Homo sapiens: one gene and its partners. The protein of the gene in region 5 purifies or fractionates together with the protein of the main gene of each other region. This does not show direct contact. Each region holds a gene or a part of one and is shown on either strand. Other genes may lie near its edges. The genes, in order: SERPINB5, CALML5, TRIM29, SERPINB2, KHDC4 and EXOC3.

Region 1 (3,956 bases), on a different chromosome or scaffold from region 5:
ATGAATGAAGTTTGGCACTTACCTTTAACATTGTTGTAGTCACATATAGGAGAATGTAAGAGATTATTATGAAACAATGTAGTAAATGTACAATAGGGAATTCTAGATAAGCACAGCAGAGAAGCAACCAGCTCCGTTTCAGGTCCTTTCCTGAGACTGATTCGGCTGGAAGGGAGTAGGTCCCGCCAAATGAAGAAGCTGTGGGAAGACAGGAGGACAAGAACAGGCTCCACGAAGAGATTTCAGAGCAGAGCTGCGTACTCCTTTTTCTTTTTGTTTCTTTTGCTCTGTCACCCAGGCTGAAGTACAGTGGTTAGCTCACGGCTCACTGCAGCTTTGACCTCCCAGGCTCAAGTGATCCTCTCGTCTCAGCTTTCCAAGTAACTGGGACCACAGGCATGCATCACCACACTAGGCTATTGTTTTACATTTTTTGTAGAGATGGGGTCTCACCATGTTGCCCAGGTTGGTCTCAAACTCCTGGGCTCAAGCAATCCGCTCACGTCAACCTCCCCAAATGCTGGGATTACAGGCGTGAGCCACCGCGCCAGGCCTGAGTAATCCTAATCACAGGATTTTAAAAAGAAACTTCCTGCGCCACCCATTAAACAATATCTCCTACCAATTTGGTAGTAAATATTTTGCTAATAGTACCTAATTTTTAGGTAGGCACTGTGTTTATACATATATCCATTCCTTCTTTTTTGATTGTCTTTCTGTTTAATGGGCAGCTACCTCTCTTGGCATCTAGCAGAATGAGCTGCTGCAGTTTACACAAAAAGAATGGAGATCAGAGTACTTTTTGTGCCACCAACGTGTCTGAGAAATTTGTAGTGTTACTATCATCACACATTACTTTTATTTCATCGAATATTTCACCTTCCGGTCCTGCGTGGGCCGAGAGGATTGCCGTACGCATGTCTGTACGTATGCATGTAACTCACAGCCCCTTCCTGCCCGAACATGTTGGAGGCCTTTTGGAAGCTGTGCAGACAACAGTAACTTCAGCCTGAATCATTTCTTTCAATTGTGGACAAGCTGCCAAGAGGCTTGAGTAGGAGAGGAGTGCCGCCGAGGCGGGGCGGGGCGGGGCGTGGAGCTGGGCTGGCAGTGGGCGTGGCGGTGCTGCCCAGGTGAGCCACCGCTGCTTCTGCCCAGACACGGTCGCCTCCACATCCAGGTCTTTGTGCTCCTCGCTTGCCTGTTCCTTTTCCACGCATTTTCCAGGATAACTGTGACTCCAGGTAAGCAAGGTGGGGTAGCAGGGCTGGTGACTTCCTTTTTTCAGGGAAATTCATAAATATCGTTATTTGAGCTGATTTGAGATGGTGAACAAAATGGACTTAGGTCCATTTTGGGGCTGTTTTCAAAGACGGGCTGTTGGGTTGAGTACTGTCGCCTCTCATCCCCCATGTTGGCAGTATTTCCAGCTCCCAACCCTTTGAGCACCAGGAACACTGCAGAGGGAGTAAAATCACTTAACCATACAAGGTAAGAATATGAAGAAGTCACGTGGCTCGGAGGTTTTGGTGGTAGAGGGGTGCAACCGTGATTCACGGAGGAGAAAATACTTCTGAGGACATTTTCAGGCCTACTTTGGAACTCAGAATGAATTTTGCAATGCTAGTTTCAGAAAGGGTGTGGTACCCGCAAACTGGGGAAAGTTGAGAAGTATTGGTGGGTCTGGCTGGCTCTTCTCCCTGGCTGACGTTGTAAGGCTGAGATTTAGGCATATGGACTGCCCTTCTTTTTGGCATTTTTAAGCATCAGATCGCTGTTCATCTACTTGCAACTGCATTCTTCTAAGCGGAAATTATTCTCCCTTCAGTTTTCTGGGTTTCAGCATAACTTTAAACAAGTTACACATTTCAGATGCATATTCTTGGACTTATAAATTGTAATAGCTGCTTGTAGTTTCTTACTCATATGCTGTACACTTTTTCTTATGGCTTCATTTAAGCATATCATACTAAAAACCAACATGCCAGGCTATTCCAGAGACTTGTAACCAGATCCTCAGAGCTGGGGGCTCTTAGACATATTTCAGCCCAGCCCCCTCATTCTGTAGATGAGGAGCAGAACTCACAGAGGTGATCTGGTGTCCAAAGGCACACAGCTTGTAAGTAGCACCGCTGAGATCAAATCAGGCCTTCACACTTGCAGCTCGGGATGTTTCCACAACACCGTGGGTTCTGTTACCATCTTTTTCATCCCCTACATCTCCCGGGAGGTTTTCGATAATGGGTTCCAAACCTCAGTCCCTGTCAGTTAGTGTAAGTGTTCGATGAGTTCCTTCATGGGTGGAGATGAAGCCTGTCTGAGGAAAGGAGTCTCCAAAGGAAATGAGTCAGCAGGTTTATATCTTTGCTTCCTAACGCCTTGAATTGTGCCACTTCAATCCCTCTGGGTTGTGGATTGACTTTGGGGCTATGCAGTCTCAGCGATTTGGGCCATTCTGGTGTGGCTGAGTCTGGCTGTAAGTTTACTGCTTGGCAACAGTGGGCTGGGTCAGTGGTCAAGATCAGGCTTCTAAAGAGACAGGAGCAGCTATGATGCTTCAGAGCAAAGCAGACGCCCCCCTGCCATGGGAAATTAAAGCAATTACTAATAGCTGTATTGTACTTTCTTGCCCACAAAGCACTTTTCATATACATTGATTCACTTAATCACTTCGTTTAGTCCTCATAGTCTTTCACATTGCAGAAACTTCAAAATATCCTATTTTCTTAATCCTGCACATCCTTTGCTCCTCAAAGACTTAGAATGTGGACAACAGAGGTTGTGTTTTTTGGCATTCCATTACTGATATTATAATAGGCAAGGTTTCTCATGGCATTCCCTAAGGACTGGTTATACCAAATACTTGAGAGATGTTTTTCACCATGTCTTTCCATCTTTAAAATGAGGCAGGCCAGGCTAAATGATATCTACGATACTCTGACACAGTAAAAACGTAGTTTTTTTTTTTTTTTTCTTGAGATGGAGTCTTGCTTTGTCACCCAGGATGGAGTGCAGTGGCACGATCTTGGCTCACCGCAACCTCACCCTCCCAGGTTCAAGTGATTTTTCTGTCTCAGCCTCCCAAGTAGCTGGGATGACAGGCACGTGCCACCACGCCCGGCTAATTTCTATATTTTTGGTAGACACAGGGTTTCACCATGTTGGCCAGGCTGGTCTCGAACTCCTGACCTCAAGTGATCTGCCCGCCTTGGCCTCCCAAAGTGCTGGGATTACAGGTGTGAGCCACTGTACCCGGCCAAAAGTTAAGGTTTTAAGGGATGAAAAAACTATACTCATAGCTCTGTTTAAATATGCACGCCCGTGATGTGTGGGTGAAGAGTGTGGTTGATGGTCTATAAGTAAAATGAACATATATTGTTCAAATCAGGATATGTTTGAGAGTAAACGGGGCACTGTTATCAATGTCAAGACAACAGACATAAACCAGGATTGTCCCAGGCAAAGTGGGATGTATATATCCTACCCACAGGACTTTTTTCTCACCTAAATGGTCTAAAGACAAAAAATGTGAGGACCATTGGCTCAGATGCATAAAAAACTTAGGAAATCTTCATACAAAGACCAGTGACAAGCTATAAGTCTAGAGAAGTGAGCACGGCCCTACCCCCAGCCCAGTACATGCGTCTCCATTCACTGGGGCCTCTCTGAATTGAGTCAGTTCTCCCTGTCCCACGTTTTTGCAAGGCTAACTCCTACTTATCCTGTAGGACTCACCTTTAATGTGACTTACTCAGTTGTCACTGTCTCTGAGGAGGTGTCACTGAGGTTTCTAGTATGGGGGGTCTGTCACTCCTGGGGATCCCATAGTGACTTGGGTGCTCATCAAAACACTTAAAACAGTCATCATACCACTAACTGACAGCTCCTTGGAGGCAGGGGCTATGTCGTTTTCACCTTTTCTTAATGCTTACCCTGACACAAATTAGGTACTCAGT
Region 2 (2,623 bases), on a different chromosome or scaffold from region 5:
GAATAAAGGAGTTTGTTCCCTGTGTACGGGCAGGGGCTGGGGAGAAGAATGGGAATCTATGGAGATCAGAGGGGACTTGCTTGGGAAAGGCATTTTGGGGACTCCAAGGCAAATGTCCCCTCACAACTGTAGATCACATCAGTGGAAGGACTTGGGGATGGTCCCCCGAAAGCTTAGCTGTTGCTCTAAAAGTTGGTCAAGGCAAGTGGCCCTGGGGGTTTCCTTCCAGAGAACAGATCAGATTGAGGACCCCAGTAGGCTCCCAGATGGGTCTCTGTGCTTAGGGCTGATGCTTAGTAAAACCACAAGGAGGGCCAAGTTTGATGGCAGCCACCTGTTCTGCATCCTCCTGCACCTCTGCCTGCACCTTTGGGGTATGCTGGGCACTGAGGTCCCCCGTGTCTCGCTGCAGCAAAACTCCAGCTGTAACTGTTTGACGCCCTGTGAATGGAACGCCTGCCACTGAGCTCCCAGGGTGTCTGCACAGGGAACCTTGGACTTGGCGATGGAATTGAATTGTAGGAATCCCTGAGCTAGAAGGGAGTATTCTGGGGAGACAAAAAGTCTTTCCCTCTCCTCTGAAACTGCACGTCACATGTTCACTTGATAAACACCATCTCAGCACCAGCTATGGCTCTGAAGGCAGCCCTGGTCCCTTGCTTCCTTGAAGTTATAGGCAGTGAGCCCCATCCTCTGTCTCTAGACCCTGGCCTGGGAATCTCATGATACCCACAGTTGTGCCCTGGCAGAATCAACACTACCACCCACTTCCCTTCCACCAGCCCCAGCCTCAGGGCAAGAGCTAGGCAGTAGCACTGGAGAGAGGGGTACGGAAACACCAAACACTGGGGCCTGCTGTGCCCTTGAGGGAGCCCTCTTCAAGCCACCTCCCCCTCCAGTCTCAGTCTTTGTGAAGTTGCAGAAGCTGTCTTGAACCCCTTGGCTTGGTCAGGATCTCCGAGAATCAGCTGCAGGGGAAACTATCCCTTGGGCAGAATGTTCCTGGAGGGAGGTGGTTGCTATCAAGGCCAGGCGGGGTTGGCAGGCTAGCCATCCGATACCCCGACCCCATGGCAGTTCCCACCTGGCACCTGACAGCTCTCCCAACTCCCATTCCTGCATTTCCTGTCTGCAGCTGATCTGGCCCTCCCTGGGAGGAGGCTCTCACCCCAGGGCATTTGGAGGGTGGGGAGCCTCCCTCCTCCCTTTGTTCCGATTGCAGAAAAGGAGGGGGTTCCCATGCCAAGGCAGAACTGTCTGGGACAGACGCTGCCCGGATCCCTGCGGCTGCCTGCACTCTGGACCACGAGCTCTGAGAGCAGCAGGTTGAGGGCCGGTGGGCAGCAGCTCGGAGGCTCCGCGAGGTGCAGGAGACGCAGGCATGGCCGGTGAGCTGACTCCTGAGGAGGAGGCCCAGTACAAAAAGGCTTTCTCCGCGGTTGACACGGATGGAAACGGCACCATCAATGCCCAGGAGCTGGGCGCGGCGCTGAAGGCCACGGGCAAGAACCTCTCGGAGGCCCAGCTAAGGAAACTCATCTCCGAGGTTGACAGCGACGGCGACGGCGAAATCAGCTTCCAGGAGTTCCTGACGGCGGCGAAGAAGGCCAGGGCCGGCCTGGAGGACCTGCAGGTCGCCTTCCGCGCCTTCGACCAGGATGGCGACGGCCACATCACCGTGGACGAGCTCAGGCGGGCCATGGCGGGGCTGGGGCAGCCGCTGCCGCAGGAGGAGCTGGACGCCATGATCCGCGAGGCCGACGTGGACCAGGACGGGCGGGTGAACTACGAGGAGTTCGCGAGGATGCTCGCCCAGGAGTGAGGCTCCCCGCCTGTGTCCCCCTGGCTGCGCTCTGAGCCTTCAGGGCCACCGCCCGCTGCTGCTTTTGTGCTGGGACTCTCCGGGGAAACCTGGTCGGTGGATGGGAAACTGCCTCCCCCTGGGAGGAAGGCTTTGCGCTCCGGGGCCTGGATGCGGCGCCCTCGGGCCGCCTGCGAGCCCCTCTCTGCCTCCAGACCTTGGGCAGAAGGAGGCCTCCTTGGGCCTGGTCCCCCTTTGCCCTGCAGTGGAATGAGGGCCCCTCAGCCCCGCATTGATCTAAATAAAGGACTGCCGAGTTCCATGTGTGCTTGGTGTTTGTGGGGCGGCTGCCTCCGAGGGCCCCCACCTGCTTCCAGGGTTCCTTCCAGCCCACCCCTCTCACCTGCGGTGGCAGAACTGCCTGGAGCAGGCCCCAGGGGCAGCTCCTGCCTCCCCTGACGCGGAGCAGAGGGCAGGTGGGCAGAGGATGTGTGAGGATGGTGCTGGGCGGTGTCTGTGGCTCCAGGTTCTGCCTGAGCTGCTGGTGAGGACCTGGGCACGTGTCCCGCACAAACAGGAGCGGGCGCCTCGCATGGACAGACGGAGCCCAGCTGCCAGCCTCTGCACGCAGCCTGCCTCTCTTCGGCTGCAAATAATATACGTGTACGTCTGTGTGTGCATCTGTGTGTGTGTCTGTGTGTCTGTATGCGTGTCTCTGTATGTGTGCATCTGTGTGTAAGTCTCTGTATGTTTGTGTGTCTGTGTGTCCTTGTGTGCATCTGCATGTGTATGTGTGTATCTGTGTGTGTGTCTGAGTGTGTC
Region 3 (3,500 bases), on a different chromosome or scaffold from region 5:
CCAGAGTCTGGTTCAAGCCTGCCCCCTCAGGATGCCCCCAACCCCAGGGGACAGGAGGCGTCAATCACTCTGCCTTGTCAGAGTGCTGGGAGCACCACAGGCAGGCGGGGGACAGAGTGCAGGAAAAGAGGATCAGCCTTGGGGGGACTTAGGGTCGTCTGGTCCTGCCTTTCCCAAAGGGGCGCCTGCAGGATTGGATCTGCAGGATGCTGGCAGGTGCCCCATGGCCACAGGACCCTAGAGCCAGCCAACGCTGGGAGTTAAATAAACTCTGCAGTAGGAGAAGCAGCATCCTGAGGATCAGAGAGGTCGAGTGCAGGGGGTATGGCATGTCCCCCGGTCCTGACCACTGAGAGCTGTTGTTGCAGCGTGTAGTTAGAGACTAGAGAGCGGTGAAACAAGCCCTGGGAAACGCTGATGTGGCCCAGCCCCCACCCCTGCCCTCATTTTCAGCAAAGACCATGGCGGTAGCTCCCGGGCTCTCAGGCCAGGCCTCTCTCCTCCACGAGGTGAGGGAGGAACTAGCAGCTCAGCGAAGAGACCCAAGCAGGGCTTGGGAGGTGTGAGGCAGCTGTGGAGGAAAGCAGGGGCCAGGGTGGGCAAGCTCACCTTTCAGGGAGAAGGAGGAGCTGCCTTGGACGACGGGCAGGTCATTGTCAGAGTTCTGAATGCTGGAGGAGTACTCCCAGACCCGGGAGGTGTAGTTACCTGGCAGGACAAAGAAGGGCTGTCAGGCCCCCACAGCTGGGAGTGGGAGAGGAGGCAGGACCAGGACACAGCCAGGTCTATGACTCTCTAGCCGCTGGCCACAACTTAAGCCAGGATGCCACTGTGTGATCCCAGTGACGCCTCACCCCCATCCTTCTGCCACCAAAGCTATCTTTCTAAAATATAAAGCATAGTCTTGTCCCTGCCCTACCTAAAGGCCACTGTCCTCAGAATAAGGGACAAAGTCCCAAGAGCAGCCCAGAGCTCTGTCGTGAGTTGCTCCCCCAACCCCCACCACCCACCCACCATCTCCCACTTCTTGACTTCACCTCTGCCCTCCCTCCACCACTGGACATTCAAACCAGGCTAAGCCTCAGTGTCTGAGACACTCCATCTTCTCTCCTGCCCCAGGCTATGTGCCCAGACCCTGTCCTCTGCCTAGGACACTTCTCCTGCTTGCCACCCTCGGCGATTCATGGGTGGGGTCTTCAAGTGTCAGCTTACATGGCACCTCCCAACGTCTGCATGTGCCTTCAGCTTCATCCCCACATCGTCCTGCAACCCCTACCCTCTGGGTCGCAATTACATGTTCAATTGTCTGTCTCCCGCAGTGAGCTCACGTGAACTGGGAATGTGCCTGTCTGGCCCCTGCATCACACCTGGTGCCTGGCACAGAGCCTGGTTCCTGGAAGGTGCTCATTGTATGGTTGATGGATAGAATGCATGAACCAACGAACGAATGAATACAAACACATCCTAAAACTTGGGGACAAGACAGTTGATAGTTGCCAAGTTGAATAGGCTAACACATGCCTATGTGCAGACATGTTCTATAGTCCAGAGGAGAAGAAGGCAGTGGGAAAGGGGTGGGAGAAGCTGCCAGGGCACTCAGAGGGCACTGGAGTGGGGGGCTCAGAGTCCCCATGGGTGACGCACACTTCTCCAGCACCACACCCCCACCTGCCAGGCTTGAAGCATCAGTGACCTCCTTAGTCAAGCTCACTCCTTAGCAGCCTGTGGGGAGGGCTGGGGGCTGACTTTTGGGCTCAGGGGTCACAGATGGCTGGGGTTGGCCACCTGCCCCTGTGCAAAGCCCTCCCACAGGGATCCCAGGCAGCTTCTGTAGCAAGGCCTCAGTAAGCACGTCCAGCCAGGGTTCCGCGAGGCCAGACACCTTGCCCTCCTGTTCACTCATGCCTTTAGCCTCTCTCTCAACAACTGCTTCCTGACCCCCTCCTACTTTTGAGCTCTGGGCCTGTAGCAGCGAACAGGACAGACACAGCTCTGTCCTCAAGGTGCCCAAGGTCTACTGCATATGTGGAGGAGGGGTGCCGCTGATCACGGCTGTGAATCCAATTCTGGATGTAGAGGCCCAGGCATTGCTCTGGTGCCCCTGACCCTCCAGTCTCCATGAGTCTTGCCCTCACTGAAGAGTCCTCCAGTGCTATGTCTAGGGTGGGGGCTGACCCAGTCCCCTCCCTCCCTGTGCATGGCTGGCATGTGACCAGGAGCCCCCAGGACAGAACCAGGGTCTCCCAGAACCAGGTCTCATTGAATGCATGGCCCTGCCCTTGAGCAAATGGTCCCCTCAGAGCACTGGGCAGAGGGAGACCCTGAACTTAGCAGCTTCCCCTGGGGAAGCCACATCCCCACACCCATTTCATCCCATCTGGGTCTTAAGGTGCTGCTCGCTTGCCTCACCACCTGGAGCTCCAGGGCCAGCCCCATTTCCTGCCGTGCCTTCCTTTCCAGTCACAGCCAAGTTGACAACTAACCACTGTACGACTTTTCACTGCAGAAGTACTCAAATCAGTAGAGATTCTCTTTGGGTCCTCGTGCCCTCATACTTGTGGGGGGGGTGGCGCATTCCCCACACTTAAGCCCAAGGTGGCTGCTCAGACCCAGTTTTCCCCAGATCCTTCCTCAGGGATCAGAAGAGCACACAGACTCAGGGATCTCCAGGGATGCCGAGATTCCTGGCTGTTTTTCCTCCAGCCTAACTAATGGTGTCCCCCACACATGTACACACACACACACACACACACACACACACACACACACACACACACACTTTAAGCTCGGTAGGTAGGACCCCTCCCTACCCATGCCTGGACCCTCCACCCATCCTAGCTTCCCACATTCATCTCACACTGGGGTCCCAGCCCTGTGCCCCTGGACCCACCTCTATGCCCCTCCTGCCTGCACAGCCCCACATGAACTCTGTGCACCCTTGAGCTGAGCCACCACCTACCTTTGGTGCCATAGAGATTGTTGAAATTCTTCTGGGTGGTCTCCTTGGTGAAGCGGCCAGGAGACGAGGGCTGGTATGATGTCCGGACCCCACCTGTGAAGCAGATGAAGGGGGCTGTCATTGCAGAAAATTGTCTCATCAGGACTCCTTGCCCCCAAAAAGTTGCCCAAGTGCCCATCACAGGACCTGGATTCCACCACTGAGAGAAGTCCTTTGGGTCTGACATAAGTCAATCAACTAATTTATCACCCAAATTGGCATGCTTTTGAGAGTAGAAGGACTCTGTTAGTAACCGTGCAGAGAGCATCAGCATAAACTTGGAGAGGCCATGGCAACCACGAGGGCAGAAGCAGTAGGCTCTCAGCCACGTGAGGGTGGGGCCTCCTGGAAGTGGCCTAATGAGCCAGAAACACCTCCCAGGGGCCCACCCAGGCTGCTGCTTCCCGGGAGATCAGAGCCTCACTTCACAAGTGCTTTCCTTCCCGCACACCTGGGCTCTCACAACAGCCTTGTGAGGAAGCAGTGGGGACTGATACCACCA
Region 4 (3,500 bases), on a different chromosome or scaffold from region 5:
GACCCTTAAATCAGGGTTCTTTGGGCTAGCACTAAAGCCTTCCTGAATCAGTGTTAAAGTCACTCAGGGAGATGTCCCTGCAAAAGTGGGACTGTGAGCTGCCCCTAGTCCACACAAAGGCCACAGAGAAAATAGTGAGGCAGTTTGGCCTGGATGGGTCTGTTGCCTCACTGTAAGGAAAAGAGCTTATATCCTAATTCCCACAGACCTATGCCATCCAGGAGCTTATATCTTTTATGTATTCTTTTCTTTCACTACAAATGTACCACTTCTAACAGCTACAGCAATTCTCAACTGTGTGGCCTCTTCTTGCCCTGATTCCCTCATCTGTAAAATGAGTACGGTAATCATCGTACCTACCTCATAATATTTTGTCTTATGTGAGTAAATTTATAAGAAGTTCTTAGAAAGATGCCTGGCTAAGGCACTAATAAGTATTGGTTGTTATTATAGCAACTGCTACTAAGTGCCTTACATAGTACCTCTAATCTTCACAACTTTCTTGCATGCTACACATTTTTATTCCCATTTTGTAGATGAGAAAACTGAGATGCAAATGGTTTCAATGTCCTCACACACATGTAGTAAGGAACAAAGCCATGACTCAAACACAGATACGTCTGTCCCCAAAGTCTGTGCTGCTTTCTCCAGCCAATAAATGTCTTTTTCTTTTTATCTGGGAAGCAATCATATTAACATTTGAATTTCAAAATCTACACATGCAACAGAGTTGTCAAAAGACGATATATATAGAGTCTCAAAAAAAAAAAGACTATATAGAATCCTCGCATAGTCCCAAAGGCTTAAAGCACTTCTTAGACACAGAAAAGCTGTCTTGTGTCCAGAGCAATCAGTTTATTTTCCTCTAGTACCAAAATCAAGATTTTTACTTTAACAACCCAGAGCACTTCATTTAGCATTTGCTCCCAAAATATATTGCTACTGATTCCTTTACATTTAAAAAACAAAAAAACCTAGGCCGGGTGCACTGGCTCACGCCTATAATCCCAGCACTTTGGGAGGCCGAGGCAGGTGGATCACAAGGTCAGGAGTTTGAGACCAGCCTGGCCAAAATGGTGAAACCCCATCTCTACTAATACAAAAATTAGATGGGCATCGTGGCAGGCGCCTGTAATCCCAGCTACTCGGGAGGCTGAGGCAGGAGAATGGCTTGAACCTGGGAGTTGGAGGTTGTAGTGAGCCAAGATCGCACCACTGCACTCCAGCCTGGGTGATAGGGCGAGACTCCATCTCAAAAAAAAGAAAGGAAAAAAGAAAAAAACCTAAGACCTGATGTTTCTAAAGCTTTTGTGCCAATTTACTATCTTTATTCTTTCAAGGCAAAAAATAAAAAATAATGGGGAAAGAATATTGCAAAAGACTACTTGTGTCAGGGAGTTGAGCAATTGAGTTTTGTTGTAAGTCTCAATGTTTAAACTGTCACAAACACAGAGATTGATTCACCCATCCCTTGTCTTCCTGCAGCAATATTGGCCAATGCTCTCTCTGTGAAACTTCAAACTTCAAATGAGGCCCACCTTACATGGGTCACCATGTGCATGGAAAGAATGTATTTACACTCAGGTACATTCTCGTGGGAAACTGGAAACCAGCCGGCGGCATCTTGGTGTGACTGCATGCACAATGCATGCGTGTCCTTAAAGCATTTAATGTTAATGTTTGTATGTGTGAATGCAAAGGAATTTTAATGATATCATGGCCACATCGAGGTCACTAACCTTGGAAGTAACATGATCACAAGAATTTTGTATGTGCTGAGTGACTATTACAGTAACGATTGCAGTGTATAATTGAAGTAGTCCGGCATAATTTCAAGGGCCCAGACTCCGTGGAAAGAGTTTCCTGACTGAGTCCACGTCCATTCACCAAGGAAGGCAGGCAGTGGCCTTGCAGAAATCCCTCACAATGATGTTGTGCATCCCATCTACCTTGGTTTTCAGGGCTGGCCATAATAATGCCAGGTCTCATTCTGCTACCGTGACCTCACAGGCATGATCTTCTGCAGCTACAACACTATCCATGCATCCTGTGGGTATAGTGAGCACCACCCTGGTATGTTTTTTTTTTTTTCCCTTTGTGATACTCTCTTAACATTATTAGAAGGAATTCTTCATAGGAATAGGGAACAAACACCACAGTGGCACAGTAATGGGAAGGAGCCCAGGCTAGGAGTTAGGAGACAGTGGGGGCTTCTCTGACACCACCAGGGCTCTCATCTGTAAAATGATATCTGTCTTAAAACTGAATGAGATAATGGGTACAAAACACTAACTTTGAAAAATAAGAATATTATATTATTAAAATATAAGATGTGGTCACTCATAACTGTGTCCAGCCTTGCAGGCTATTCAACTCCCATATGCCTTCAACAGCTACAGTTGAGGGATTCGGGGGCTTGGCTGTCTTATAGATTTGAATCTAAGGAATTTGTGTTGTAAGGATCAGTGCTTCATTACCTGTGATGATTGCTGACCTCCTGAGTTAAAATGTCTTTAGCATAAAACAAGAGCAGTTCTCCAATTCCATTCAGGAACTACTCGGCCCAAATGTGGAGCTTCAGCTCAAACTCACCTTGGCCATCTGGTCTTCGGTGCTGCCCCTGGAGCCCATGTAGACCATGGCCATGGTGGACGAGATGCTCCATGGGGAGAGGAAGAGGTTCTGGGTGGGGCTTGCTTTTGCCAGATGCTTGAATAAATTGAGGGCAAAGAGTGTGTTTGCCACACAAAGATCCTCCATTGTTTCAATCTAGAAGCAAAGAGAGGAAGAAAAAAACAGCTCTGAAACATAAGGTAACATTTTGGGTGAGGTCAGCAACAGTAGGACAGGCTGCATTCTGTGTAGGGACAGATTCCCTGTCTGTTCTTCCTCATGGAACAACATGAGGCAGGTCAGGGACAGCTTCATGGACATACCACCTGTGCAGCCGTAAAAAGCCCCTTGTTTAGCCAAATGCCCTCCTATCGCCATCTTGAAATTCTTGATAATTTTAAACAAAAGGCCCACATTTTCATTGTGCACCAGACGCTGTAAATTACATAGCCAGTCCTGAGATACATGAAGTGTTTTGTATGATGAGCAGCGACACTTTGTGGCATTCCATAGAATAACAATGACAATATATAGGGACAGGAGTAGGAATTGAAGCCAGATAGGCAGACCCTAGGATCATGCTCTCAACTTCTATGCTGCCCCCACAAGCACAACGCACACATCCACACCACACACACTGCCACACAGGAAGATATACACATATTGAAATATATGCCACCTGCATACATACCTTGTTGCATCTGGTAAGACGGTCAATCTTCTTTCTGCTTTCCTGCTTCTAAAGTGACTTTGACTCATTGTTTGAAGGTTTGGAGTTTCACCCAGCCCCTATCCCAGAACCCCTTCCCTATATGCACCACACATACCACAGCCTTACTAAAAAAGACTTCCTATACTGGGGTGTTCATTACTGGGAGGACTAGAAG
Region 5 (2,434 bases):
TTCTAGATACACGTTGGTTGGAAACAAAAGGTTGTCTGTATACAATTTTTTTAAAACTATTTTCTCTCTCTCTCTCTCGGCACACGTTTGTTGGAAATAAAAGGTTGTCTGTATACAATTTTTTAGAAACTATTTTCTCTTTCTCTTTCTTTTTTTTTGAGACAGAGTCTCACTCTAGTGCCCAGGCTGGAATGCAGTGGTGTGATCTTGGCTCACTGCAACCTCCACCTCCCAAGTTCAAGTGATTCTCCTGCCTCAGCCTTCCAAGCCGCTGGAATTACAGGCATGCACCACCATGCCCAGCTTAATTTTTCTATTTTTAGTAGAGACGGGGTTTCACCATGTTAGCCACGCTGGTCTCAAACTCCTGACCTCAGGTTATCCGCCCACCTTGGCCTCCCAAAGTGCTGGGATTACAGGCGTGAGCCACCGTGCCCAGCCCAAAAGTATTTTCACTGGCCAACAGATTATAGAGGTTGGATTAAACACCTGAATGAACATCAGGTTAGAAAATTAATAGCTTTATTTATGTATTTATTTATTTATGAGATGGAGTCTTGCTCTATTGCCCAGGCTGGAGGGCAGTGGTCTGATCTTGGCTCACTGCAACCTCTGCCTCCCAGGTTGAAGCGATTCTCCTGCCTCAACCCCCTGAGTAGCTGGAATTACAGGCGCCCACCACCATGCCCGCTAGTTTTTGTATTTTTAGTAGAGATGGGATTTCACTATGTTGGCCAAGCTGGTCTTGAACTCCTGACCTTAGGTGATCTGCCCACCTCGGCCTCCCAAAGTGCTGGGATTACAGGCGTGAGCCACTGCGCCCGGCTGAGAAAACTAATAGCTTTAGACCAGTCTTAGCCACTCCCCTGTTCCCCCAGCTATATCACACTCACCATGGCTCCCTGTTAAGGTCCCAGACCCATTCCTTTCATCGGACTCTGTTTTTATTCCAGTCACTGGAAAGGCTGGTGGAGGCATCAACTGCCTATTGAAAAACAAAATGAAACTTTCTTTCAGACAATTTAAATTTTCTTAACTTATCCAGTGGATTAGAAGTGCAATTATGTCTGCAGACAATCCTTCAAATTCATTTTAACCATTAATTTCAACCCCTTCCACCTTCCCCCAGCCCCTTTATAAAAGTATAAGGCCTGTCTACACAGCAATTGCCATGACAAAAATCGAATGAACTGTTATAGAAAGATATCAGCTCCTTTCTTATGAAGGTTAATATACTAATATAAGAAAGGAAAATTCAAGCACTGTGTGGCAGGCTGAACTCCCACATTCATGTACTTCCATCCATGATATTCTAATGACTCTAAAGTAGCAAAAATAGCTGAATTATGTAACATTTCTGTTACTGTCTACCCTTAGGAAAATGGCCAAGATGCAGACAATGGAAGTCAAGAAAGATGTCTGAACAAGTAATAAATTATTCAAAACCGAATATAACTGCTTCTAAATCTGTAAAAGGCCTATCATATTTTACTTCATTGCATCAATTACAACAAACAGAAGCATATTTGATTCAAAGATTTCATTTCAGTTTCAGAATACTTAAGCTCATAGCAATGATCATTACTCTCACTAATGGTGCAAACAAATAACATCTGAATACATTTGCATAATTATTCCAACTTACCTGTCCCTCTCTCTCTCTTTGCCTGAGGAACTTGCTGGCTTCGATCCTGCACCTTCAATCTCATTCTGACTGGAGAAGCCTGTACCTAAATTAGTCATATGAATGGGTCCATGCTATGAGCAGAAAAATACAGTGGCATTAGCAAATCTACAACTGCCGTATTGACTTTAGCTCCTTAATGTAACTGTCAAGTGCCTCATCTTTCTGATAAGTTGTAGTACGTTAAACTACTACAAAGCTCTTTGGGATCTGCTGTGTAACTGTAGTCAAAAGTAGGGATTTTTTTTTTTCTCTATAGGACTTGGACAGGGGTGTTATAATTCATTATGCTATCTATGGCCTGTTTTTAACTGACTGCCCATAGCTCCACTAGTTTCTATAAACCTAGCTAGAAACTATAAAAAAATGCTTTGGTTTAAAGAATGATTCAAGGATTCTGGCAAAATGGAAAGGTACTTCTGATAAAATTGCACCAAAACTACAAATTAAGAATCTTTTTAACTTTAGTGGCTAACTTTACAATTACATGTACAGAATCACTCCTTTTCTAGCAGTCTTGAGGGGTGGGGAGACTGGAGGGAGATATCACTCTCTTTTTTAGGTGGAGGGTAAAAGAGAGAGCACCACTGAAAGCCAAGGTTTTAAATACAAACCACATACTGGTAGATCAAGAGCTTTGAGTGAGATGTATAAGAAAGTAAGAACTCTCAGAGGCTTTCAAGAGTCTGTTGAATAGGATAAAAAACCTAACCAAAATGAATTCCAGAAAGCAGAAATCCTAGTACTGGG
Region 6 (3,500 bases), on a different chromosome or scaffold from region 5:
AGATACAACCCAAACGCAGACTTGGCATCGGATGACCCCACGGAGTCACCGTGCATGTGTCTCTGACTTGATGGCACTGCAGTGGCTTCAGAGAGGGTCGCAAATACCATGCCACAGCGCCCGGGGTTTGCCTGAAGGTACTTCAGCAGAGAGAGTGGAATGGGCAGGGGAGAACAGATTAGGCAAGGGGGCTTTGGAGGGGATGGCTTCTGGACTGCACGATGGGTGAACACAGTTTTTTAAACTCTTTTCCACATCTGTATAGGTTTGAAAATTATCAACAACTCATGGGGAGGGTGGCGTGCCAGGTCATGGCTGCCTGGAGCCCTTCTGAGGAGGGCCGGCTCAGCCGAGGACGCCCTCCCCACTACGAAGTAGGCACTGCGGCAGGAGTCGCCACCCCCACCCCAAGGAAGTTCAGAACAGGCAACAGGAGGAGCCTGACTCCAACAGAGTTGGTGTCATCCGGCGCATCGCTAAGGACGTCACAACACATCAGCTCTGGGAGCCCAAGGGGGTGTGTGGTCCACTCAAGGGGAAGATGATCCAGAAGCTCCGCTCCCTCCCTTTGCTTTTGAAGAACACAGGAGTGACACGTGGGGAATCTACCGGCTTAATTTCTTCTTAGTAACAGGCATAGTAGGATCAAAAAATTTTTGCTTCTAATTTTTAAAAACATTCAATGTGTACATTAGCACACTGGCAGAAAGACATACCTGCTTAGGAAAGAATTCATCTGCTGAAGACATAAAACTAGTACCTTTGTTTTCAAATCTTCACTTATCTGAGCAGCAACTTGAAGATTCTGTTCAAACATCTAAAAATCAGAGAACTTATGAATTCTGGTATAATCTTACAGGAGTATACTAAGAGTGCAGGTTTGCTGTTATATGAAACCTCCATCTGCTAACTGGCATTTAGGATAGTCCAAATTCAGAGAAAAAAAAAATGAAACCACGTGAAAAATAACAAAGTTAGTTTAAAAAAAAAAAAAACAACTTTCTCACCTGGGAAAGTACCAAGTGACTCATTTCTTAATTCCTGGCAAACTGGTTTCTCCCACGGGGGCCATGTCTGTCCTCACACTACGTGACTGGAGTTTTAATGTGTGGAGTGAGGCCCCACCCGGGATGGCGCCCCTCAGGCACCTGACTCACCCTCCCTGGCCCCATGACTGTCATGATGCAGAGTTCCTAAGAATCTGGACCTGGGGTGTGCCAGGCCCTGCCAGGAGCTGACCCAGGCAGAGGAAGGGCAAGGGGACAGAGCTCTCCTCACAGTTTCTCACGGCATCTGTTTCCAAACAAAGGAAAGGGTTTGGACTAGCCTGTCAATAACTAACGGTATCATTCAGAGAGAAATGTCACCCGCCAGCCCTCACTCCTGCCTAACTAGAGTCCTGAGTGAGGATTCTAACACAACGGGGCTCCATCCCTCAGCAATGCCACTCAAATTAAAACACATGATGTGCCAAAAGAAAAAAAGAGCAGGAAAAACGGGACACAGGGCGGTCGGACACTGGAAAGTGAATCCGTGGTAAGAACACACCGGTTCTAACACCTAGTGAGGCTTGGGCGTTGGAAAGTGAATCCGTGGTAAAAATGCAGGTCGGTCTAATACTTAGAACCTTAACCAATGAACAGGAAAGCAACTTTAAAAGCTAATGGACGCCTTGACCCAGGAGGTAGAGATTGCAGTAAGCCAAGATTGTGCTACCGCACTCCAGCCTGGGCAACAGAGTGAGACTCCGTCTCAAAAAAAATAATGGACGCTCCCAAAATCCACCTGTTTAAACTCAATCATGTGCCATTTTTTAGGACAAATCCTGGATATCGACCAAACAAACTCACATTTGAAAGTCGCACATAAATAACATACAATTAGGCTGTAGTCCAAACCCATAAAGACCAGGTCAGAAAAGTAAAGTGACCTTGGGCAAAACTATTTGGTAAGTATCATCCCAGGTTTCTGCAGCTCCAGAGAGTAAGAGACAGAGAGAGGAGAGGACTTAGATGCACCAGGCAGGGCTCTCAATATTTTTACTACACTCTGTGGATGAAGATCCCAGGTATCTGTGTCACTTTGTAAAACCTACAGGTCCCACTATCCACCTAGGAAACGGAACTGTGCCAGTCCCCTGCAGGTGGTACCTGGAAGACAATGGCAGGGAGTGTGGTCTGGTAGTACCCGTCCTGGTCGGCTTCTGGCTCTGTCTCTTTGACCCAGTCTTTCTTGTCTGTCTCCAGCGCTTTCCGCAGCCAGGCGATGATGTTTGACTAAAGAAAGTTCAGCATCATGGAGAAGAGAAGAGAGAAGAGCAGGTGCCTGAGGGTCATGCCAATTACCTGGTCAGTTGCATGCACAAGCTCCACAAACCAGACACAGGGCACCAGCGTCCTCTTTCTCAAATGAGGACTCCAGAGCAGGGACCCAGGAGCCACCCCCATGGGAGGCAGTGACCACAGCAGCCCGCAGGGGTTTAACTGGAACCCTTGGTACAGATAAAGAGGGAGAAGAAACTAGATGCCCTTTTGGCTGCACCTCATGCTGGAGGACAAGGCCGCTGAATCCCAGGTGCACAGAGAATGAGGCCGACCAGGTCCGGTCAGGCCTGTTCCCATGCCCAGACTCAGCAACCACAGCAGCTCACGTCCCAAGAGAAGACAGCGCTCCTTCCCCAGCTCCTGAGGACACCTCGGCTTCTGGTCATAATGCTGCCTTGCTAGGTGGACGCACCCTTGTCTAAGAAGCAGACCCTGCTGACCTCCTCTTCTCACTCTGAGACCACCTGGTGGTCACCAGGCTGCAAATGGACTCGCCCTTTGGTCCTTGACGGACCCCCCCAACCATGGGACTCAGAGCCGAGAGCCTGGCAGGTGCTGCCACACACGGTTCAGACGTTCTGGGCCCTGGCCAGCCTGCCGAGTAGGGCACAGGCTCACGTCTCCAGCAGAGGACAAGCTTCAGATCCAGGCCCAGAGAAGGGGCCATTCTCCTCTTCTAGCAAACTGACCTGTCAAGGCCTGGAAGCAGAGCCCGGGCAACTGAGCAATGCATCCTAGGAAGTCAACGCTAAGGCATTTCCCCCCTGCCTCCTGCCTGCTGCCAAGCCCTAGTTACTCATATAACCAGCACGGTGGTCTGTGGCACGCAGGCCAGCCCTACTCACAGTGAGCGTGGACATGTACGTGTCAAGCAGCTCAGAGACCACGTGTGGAGAAAGCAATGGCTCCAGGGTGCCGACATCCACTTCCGGGGCCAGCTCCACGTTCCTCATCATCTCAGTACTATGGGGGAACCAGGAATGTGAGTGACAAACCACGACAGACACAGAAGAGCATGCCCAAGTGTGCCGAGACTGTTTCACTTGACACATGAATGTCCACCACCCTGGAGACTTCCTGGTCACAGCCGGCCCACAGCTCAGGGGAAAGTGCAGGGCAGGGGCCGAGGGCTTTGGGGTCTCTGTGGCATCACCCCACTGGCTCCCAGACTGCGTG

The links.
Region 1: the proteins of KHDC4 (region 5) and SERPINB5 purify together in Homo sapiens (affinity purification with mass spectrometry; 2 studies listed by BioGRID and IntAct, with this or other methods). This does not show direct contact.
Region 2: the proteins of KHDC4 (region 5) and CALML5 purify together in Homo sapiens (affinity purification with mass spectrometry; 2 studies listed by BioGRID and IntAct, with this or other methods). This does not show direct contact.
Region 3: the proteins of KHDC4 (region 5) and TRIM29 purify together in Homo sapiens (affinity purification with mass spectrometry; 2 studies listed by BioGRID and IntAct, with this or other methods). This does not show direct contact.
Region 4: the proteins of KHDC4 (region 5) and SERPINB2 purify together in Homo sapiens (affinity purification with mass spectrometry; one large-scale study listed by BioGRID and IntAct). This does not show direct contact.
Region 6: the proteins of KHDC4 (region 5) and EXOC3 purify together in Homo sapiens (affinity purification with western blotting, with the first as the bait; one study listed by BioGRID). This does not show direct contact.

What each region holds. Positions count from the first base shown.
Region 1 is NC_000018.10:63,475,802-63,479,757, forward strand, and holds the start of SERPINB5 (serpin B5), read left to right. Parts: upstream 1-1,156; 5' UTR 1,157-1,244; intron 1,245-3,956. UniProt on the Homo sapiens protein: Tumor suppressor. It blocks the growth, invasion, and metastatic properties of mammary tumors.
Region 2 is NC_000010.11:5,498,197-5,500,819, reverse strand, and holds CALML5 (calmodulin-like protein 5), read left to right. Parts: upstream 1-1,249; 5' UTR 1,250-1,381; coding exon 1,382-1,822; 3' UTR 1,823-2,123; downstream 2,124-2,623. UniProt on the Homo sapiens protein: Binds calcium. May be involved in terminal differentiation of keratinocytes.
Region 3 is NC_000011.10:120,117,614-120,121,113, forward strand, and holds part of TRIM29 (tripartite motif-containing protein 29), read right to left. Parts: intron 3,053-3,500; coding exon 2,960-3,052; intron 709-2,959; coding exon 610-708; intron 1-609.
Region 4 is NC_000018.10:63,890,705-63,894,204, reverse strand, and holds part of SERPINB2 (plasminogen activator inhibitor 2), read right to left. Parts: exon of another isoform or gene 3,305-3,500; intron 2,770-3,304; 5' UTR 2,761-2,769; coding exon 2,593-2,760; intron 1,585-2,592; exon of another isoform or gene 1,486-1,584; intron 1-1,485. UniProt on the Homo sapiens protein: Inhibits urokinase-type plasminogen activator. The monocyte derived PAI-2 is distinct from the endothelial cell-derived PAI-1.
Region 5 is NC_000001.11:155,914,980-155,917,413, forward strand, and holds part of KHDC4 (KH homology domain-containing protein 4), read right to left. Parts: intron 1,759-2,434; coding exon 1,646-1,758; intron 986-1,645; coding exon 894-985; intron 1-893.
Region 6 is NC_000005.10:456,676-460,175, reverse strand, and holds part of EXOC3 (exocyst complex component 3), read right to left. Parts: intron 3,288-3,500; coding exon 3,170-3,287; intron 2,277-3,169; coding exon 2,151-2,276; intron 818-2,150; coding exon 717-817; intron 1-716. UniProt on the Homo sapiens protein: Component of the exocyst complex involved in the docking of exocytic vesicles with fusion sites on the plasma membrane.